Linked DNA regions of Homo sapiens. The protein of the gene in region 1 interacts with the protein of each later gene in a biochemical or structural test. Each region holds a gene or a part of one and is shown in the gene's direction. Other genes may lie near its edges.

Region 1 (3,500 bases):
GATGCAACATGAGGTCTCAGTAGACAAGTTTATTTTTTGCAGTTTTTATCTAAAGTCAGTACCTCAAGAAATACATCAAATGTTTGTATTGTTGGATCCTTTGTAAAATTCAAACTGTATTTTTAATTTTTTTAGTGCAGAGATTTAAGTTGGCCCTCTAGTTATGGAGACACTCCTACTGTTTCTATAAAAGGAATACTTACATTGCCCAAACCAGTGCATTTCAAATCTTCAGCCAAGGAAGGTTCCAACGTAAGTGGCTGTTTGTATTTGAATTTCTTTTCTGTTTTTTTTTTTTTTATATTTGTCACTTTTACCCATGTAAACAAGTCAGAATAAGAAAGTCTTTTATCTTAGGGAAACTACAACTATGTATTATTGCTTTTTCAAGGCAACTTTGAGTCTGAAAAATATTTGATATTTCATTGTCTAGTATTAAGATGCATTTAAAAAGAATATCTTATTCACTAAAATATATAGAAGATTAACAATATCTAAGAAACCTGTTTACTTTTCTTGTGTGAAAGGAAATAAATCTTGGCTTCTCTTTCCCCCAACCCACTTTGGCTTTGAAAAATAAATTCATGATTGCAATGAATTTCTTTTAAATATTTCCAATTAGTATAACAGAAAGACTTATGATCCTGAGTTTGGTTTTGTAGATCCTAGATTTTACATTAATTTAAATACATCTTCATTTCTGTCACTTTTTATAGGTTAAAAGATTATTGTTTTTCTATGCAAATGAAAAGATATCTTCTAAAAGACATCATTTTAAAATAATATCATTCAAATGACTAATAAACATATAAAAAGTTTCTTCTCACTATTAATCATAGAAATACAAATTTAAATTGCGTGTATTGCTTTCTGTTTCTTTCTTCCTCTTTCTTTCTTTGCTTTCTTCTTAGAATTAGGAAAACTTTTACAGGTATTCTAGAACATACAACTTCTTAGAAATTATCTTGACACTACATGTCAAAACCTTAAAATATTTATACTTTTAAACAGTAATTCTACTTTGAAACTGGAAATTATTTCTGTGGAAATAATCTAAAATACAAAAATATATAAAATACTCTTGGAAGTTTTGTTTGAAGAAAAATTGAAAAAACTTCAAATGTGTCATACAGAGGAATGGTTGAAAAACCTAATGGTGTACCTATGTGTATTAGTTTCCTAGGGCTACCATAACAGTACTGTACCACAAACTGGGTGACTTACAGCAACAGAATTTTCTCTCTTGCAGCTTTGGAGAAAGTCCAAAATTAAAATGTCAGCAGTGTTGATTCCTTCTCTGAGGGAGAATCTGTTCTATGCCTCTCTTCCAGCTACTGTGATGGCCAGCAATCCTTGACATTCCCTGGCTTGTAGATCACTCCAGTCTCTGCTTCTGTCTTCACATGGCATTATACCTGTGTTCTGTGTATTCACATGGCCATCTTCTTAAAGGATACCAGTCATTAGGGGTCCACCCTATGTCAGTATTACCTTTTCTTAACTTCACTGATCACATCTACAGTGACCCTGTTTCCAAATGAGTTCACATTCTGAGATGCTGGGGCTCAGGACTTCAACATATCTTTTTTAGGGGGGTGTAATTCATCCCATAACACCATGTGATAGAAAACTAGGTAACTATGAAAACTAATGTTTAGGAAGAGTTTTTAAGGAGCTGGAAAAACATTTTTAATAAATGAAAAAGACAATGATCAAAATTGGGTTGTGTGTGTATGTGTATATGTGTATGAATGTGTATATATGTATGTATGTGTATATGTATATATGTATATATATATTGGGATCTTACTTTATGAAAATATGTATCATTGAAAGTCTAGCTAGAAATAAACCTTAACTCATTATAACCTTGACACTCATAGATGAATACTTTCTGAATTAAACAATTTTACTTTTTGATTTTCAAATAAAGCTAATTTAACTTAGGAAAAGTTAGGAAAAATGTTCCCATATTAAAACTTGTATGGAATCTTTCATTTTACAATTTTATTATTATATATAAATTTGTTTGGGAGACTCCTATTTGGCAAAATACAGAAAGTGTGAAATGAAGCATCACACTTGCATAATTTGTAAGCTCATTAAACATTTTGTGTGTAATATATAATTGGTGTGATTCTATGACTTGAGACTCTAAAAGAAAAAGATAGCTCAGTAGTTGTGAGACCCTCAGAAAGACAGTTCTGGCTGTACAGACAGACATAAGCTATTACAACAAGAGTAACAGTTTGGGCACAGTATAGGCATACTTCGGAGATACTGTAGGTTCAGTTCCAGACTGCCACACTAAAATGAACATTGCAATAAAGCAGGTCACATGAGTTTTTTGGTTTCCCAGTGCATACAAAAGTTATCTTTATACTGTAGTCCATTAAGTGTGCAATAGCATTATGTCTAAAAAAAGTAATTTACATACTTTAATTTAAAATACTTTATTTCTAAAAAATGTTAATGATCATCTGAGTCTTCAGCAAGTTGTAATTTTTTTGCTGTTGGAAGGTTTTGCCTTGATGTTGATGGTTGCTGAATGATCAGGGTGGTGGTTAGTGAAGGTTGAAGTGGCTGTGGCAATTTCTTAAAATAAGACAACAGTGAAGTTGGCCACATCTATTGACTCTTCCTTTCACAAAAAAGTTCCCTGTAGTATGTGATGCTGTTTGATAGCATTTTATCCACAGTAGAACTTCTTTCAAAATTGGATTCCATCCTCTCAAACCCTGCTGTTGCTTTTCAGCTAAGTTTATGTAATATTCTGAATCCTCTGAATTCATTTCAACAACGTTCACAGCATCTTCACCAGGAGTAGATTCCATCTCCAGAAACTACTTTCTTTGCTCATGTGTGAGAATCAACTCCTTATCTGTTCATATTGTATCATGAGATGGCAGCCATTCAATTGCATCTTCAGGATCCACTTCTAATTCTAGTTCTCTTGCTGTTTCCACCACATCTGCAATTACTTCCTCTGCCGAAATTTTGAATCCCTCAAAGTCAGCCATGAGGATTAGAATAAACTTCTTCCAGATTCCTGCTAATGTCCTTTTTTTGACCTTTCATGCATCATGAATTTTCTTAATGGCATCTAAAATCCTGAATCCTTTCTAAAAAGTTTTCAATTGCTTTTGCCCAGGTCCATCAGAGGAATCACTATCTATGGCAGTGATAGCCTTACAAAATTTAGTTTTTAAGTAATAACACTTGAAAGTTGAAATTACTCCCTGATCCATGGGATGCAGAATGGATGTGTTTGCAGACATGAAAATAACATTCATCTCTGTATACATCTCTGTCAGGGCTCTTGGGTGACGAAGTGCATTGTCAATGAGAAATAATGTTTTGAAAGGAATCTTTTTTTTTTTGAGCAGTAGATCTCAATAGTAGACTTAAAATATTTAGTAAACCATGCTGTAAACAGATATGCTGTTATCCAGGCTTTGTTGTTCCCTTTATAGAGCACAGGCATAGTTAATTTAGTATAA
Region 2 (4,040 bases), on another chromosome or scaffold:
ATAACCCTCTGGTAGTTTGTGGCATTTAATATCTTAAGTATGGTTTTAGCAAGTCAAACTCTTGTTGGGGCCAGACGGGGTGGCTCACACCTGTAATCCCAGCACTTTGGAAGGCCGAAGCGGGCGGATCACTTGAGGTCAGGAGTGTGAGACCAGCCTGGCCAACATGGTGAAACCCCGTCTCTACTAAAAATACAAAAATTAGCCAGGCATGGTGGCGCATGCCTGTAATCCCAGCTAGGGAGGCTGAGGTGGGAGGATCACTTAAGCCCCAGAGGCAGAGGTTGCGGGAGCTGATATAGTGCCACTGTCCTCAAGCTGAGTTACAGAGCGAGACTCCGCCTCAAAAAAAAAAAAAAAAACAAAAAAAAACAAATCTGGTTGGAAGGAGTCTTGAACAACAGCTGAGGCATTTTGCTCCAAAATCTCAATATAGTATAATAAAAAACAGCTTATAATAAGAACATCTTCTTTTTTCATTGTGAAAGATGTGGTTAAGCATTACACGTTTCAAAGTTTTGCTTAATTCCCTAGGGAAAAAAACTACCATTTCAAAAGCCTGACAGTGTATTTTATTTCATCCTTTCATGAAGGATTTTCTATGTAACAAGACTTGAAACCAATTAGAATTTTTAATTTAGTATTTGCCAAGGTTGCTGTTTGGGGTAGATAAAAATATTTCCCCAACATAATAATTATGAGTGTTAAGATTTTATTTAGACTGGTCTAAAAGTTCCCAAAGCCTGGAGAAATCTTCATAATGCTTTTTGTTTTATTTTTATTTTTTTTGGCTCACTCCGTCGATCTGGCTGGAGAGCGGTGGTATGATCACAGCTCACTGCAGCCTCAACTTCCCAGGCTCAGGTGATCCTCCCAGGTAGCTGGAACTACAGATGTGCACCACCACACCTGGCTAATTTTTTTTGTAAAAACAGAGTTTTGCCATGTTGCCAAGATGAACTTCTTGAACTTCTGAGCTCAAGCAATTGGCCCACACCCACAGAACTAGGATTACAGATGTCAGCCACCATGCCTGGCTCAAAATGCTTTTTATAAAATATGATTAGGTTCTTGGGAGGCCGAGATGGGCGGATCACCTGAGGTCAGGAGTTCGAGATCAGCCTAACCAACATGAAGAAACCCTATCTCTACTAAAAATACAGGATTAGCCGGGCGTGGTGGTGCATGCTTGTAATTCCAGCTACTCGGGAGGCTGAGGCAAGAGAATCGCTTGAACCCGGGAGGCGGAGGTTGTGGTGAGCCAAGATTGCTCCATAGCACCCAGCCTGGGCAACAAGAGCGAAAACTCTGTCTCAAAAAAAAAAAAAAAAGATTAGGTTTAAATCACATCTTGCTTAGTATACCCAATACTTTAATATGATGTATAGCAAAATCAGCTTTTTTTTTTTTTTCTTGCTTCTTAGCTTTTTTACACATTAAGGGTTAGGAAACTACCAGTGGGATTAAATTAAAAATGATTTGTTGTGTGAGGGTCTCAGTAAAGTTGAAGTGGTAAATATTTTACATTACATTAGGTCAAAAAGGCTAGCCCTGTCCTGTTTTTAAATCTTCTAATCTACTATAAGCATTTCTACTTTTTTTAGTGAGATATATATATATATATATCACATTTAAAAAAAAAAAATATATATATATATATATATATATATATATATATATTTTTTTTTTTTTTTTCAGATGGAATCTCACTTTGTCACCCAGGCTGGAGTGCAGGGGTGCATTTTCGGCTCACTGCAACCTCTGCCTCCTGGGTTCAAGTGATTCATGTGCCTCACCCTCCCAAGTAGCTGGGATTACAGGCACCACCACCATGCCCAGCTAATTTTTGTATTTTTAGTTGAGAGCGAGTTTTGCCATGTTGGCCAAGCTGGTCTCGAACTCCTGACCTCAGGTGATCCACCTGCCTCAGCCTCCAAAGTGCTGGGATTACAGGCATGAGCCACCACATCTAGCCTAGTGGCATTTTTAACATTTAGTTTTATAGACTTTCTATCTATAGATTGAATTAATTTTTTAAATTAAACTATAGCTTAATAACTGGTTAATATTAAACATGTTTTCAGGGGGAAAAAAAAAAGAATTAACAAGTAACCAGACTATTTCCAGAGTCCTTCAGGTGTCCTTTTGTAAAAACTATTTTTCCTTCTTTTTACTTGCTTTACTCATTTATTTATTCGTTTGTTCATCGATCTTTTAAATGGCAGTATCCCTCTGAAGAAGATATGATCGAATGGGCCAAGAGGGAAAGTGAGAGAGAGGAAGAGCAGAGGCTTGCCCGACTAAATCAGCAGGAACAAGAAGACTTAGAACTGGCTATTGCACTCAGCAAATCTGAGATATCAGAAGCATGAAGAATTCTCTTGTTCTTTGGCAACAATATAGTATTCTTCTTCCTGAATACTGAAACTATTTACAATGTGTATCAAAACTACCTGTGAGCATGGGAATACAAAAGGTTTGAGATTCCTGTAAATGTGACAAAATTTTAGGATTTTTTTTTTTTCTTCATTACAGATTCGTCTTTTTTTTTTTTTCTTATAAAAGCCGTAACCCAGTCAGACAAATTCACCTTCACTTAGGCCCCTGTTCTGGTATACATTTACTGTGAGCTTTTGCCTGCCTGTGCTATTTTACTTGTAAAGCTAGAGCACCCAAGCTTCTGCCTTCTGGAATATAGAGAAATAGTTTCACCCTGCACTACCCTGTTCTGTAGTTATTCTGATGATAGCCAGTGAGGTTCTTAAAGTTTGCAGTATTCTCCCCTGATTGGAATGGTTGAGTGAGGGTAAGGGAAAGAATATCTTATTTCTTTTATGATTGGTGCAAATTGGCTAAAGTGCATTTTTAAATTTCCTCTACTTAATTTGTTTTTCAGAGATAAGGAAAAATATTTTGCACAGATTTACTCCACTATGGAAAAGGGATGCTGTAGGTTGAACCATTATAGCCTCAGATTCGATCTTTTCCTAACTAAAAATATTAAAGCCTCATGTGTGAAATAAATTTTTAAAAAGATTTATCTGGATTTAGAGAATTTTAGATCAACAGATACCTCTCAGTGTGTTTGCTAATTAATAAAAATCAGTTTCTTACAAATAAAGTTTGTAAGAAAATGTTCATTTTAAGTGATAGATAGTGGAGAAAATTTATCACCTAAAATATACCCATCAGTATAAGGCAAGCAAAAGTCTTAACATGGCAGCCATTCTGCCTTTGCCGTGGCCCTGTCCTGTTTAGTTCTTAGTGGGTTAATTTTTGTACTTTTGCAGAAGAAACTTCAGCAAGCTAGAACTGGAAGGTACTTTAATTTTTCATATATATTTGTTTTTTTTTTTTTAATGAAGGCTCATTTACTTGAAATGTAAAAACTTTCACTGAATACAAATAGAAAAAGTGATGTGTTTTATATCATATTGCTTTTTGTCCATCTTTGTGGTTTAGTTTATTTACTCACTTCATGTTTTTCACCTATAAAATTGTCAAGCTAGCAAAAAAACTCTTGTTTTTTTAATTGGGAGAGAAGAGACCTGCCAGATTATCAGACCTCTTCATGTTAAAAGACCATCTCCTGTAAAACTGACCTAGTGGACAAGCTGAATTTGAAATAGACTGTGAAGTAAGCTGTAACTTGTCATTTTAATTTTGTTTAACACGGTTACTGACTTAGATGATGTATTAAATACCAAGATAAAGAAAAATGCACCTAAAATCTAATTAGAATTCTCTGGGTCAACAAGTCAAGGTGGTATTGATCTGTGTTAATCTGAGTAACTTATTGCCTAGCCTATAAATAAATTCCAAAATATCCAATTCATTTCTTCTTGAAATGGTGCTTGTTTTGTTTTCTTTCCATTACACAATTAGACTCCTACAGTTTAAAACAAACTTTAAACCACTATCTTGCACTGCTAACTTTTTTCTACCTTTGTAAATAGAAACATTTCTGCATAAAAGTCATACATATGAAGCAAGGGCTGAATCATAATCACAAGGCTTAATTTTGATAAACGAATCCAGTG

Evidence for each region.
Region 2: the proteins of TC2N (region 1) and EPS15 interact in a test that uses a peptide from one of them, tested with the Homo sapiens proteins (one large-scale study listed by BioGRID).

What each region holds. Positions count from the first base shown.
Region 1 is NC_000014.9:91,794,537-91,798,036, reverse strand, and holds part of TC2N (tandem C2 domains nuclear protein), read left to right. Parts: intron 1-135; coding exon 136-252; intron 253-3,500.
Region 2 is NC_000001.11:51,355,032-51,359,071, reverse strand, and holds part of EPS15 (epidermal growth factor receptor substrate 15), read left to right. Parts: intron 1-2,225; coding exon 2,226-2,372; 3' UTR 2,373-4,040. UniProt on the Homo sapiens protein: Involved in cell growth regulation. May be involved in the regulation of mitogenic signals and control of cell proliferation. Involved in the internalization of ligand-inducible receptors of the receptor tyrosine kinase (RTK) type, in particular EGFR.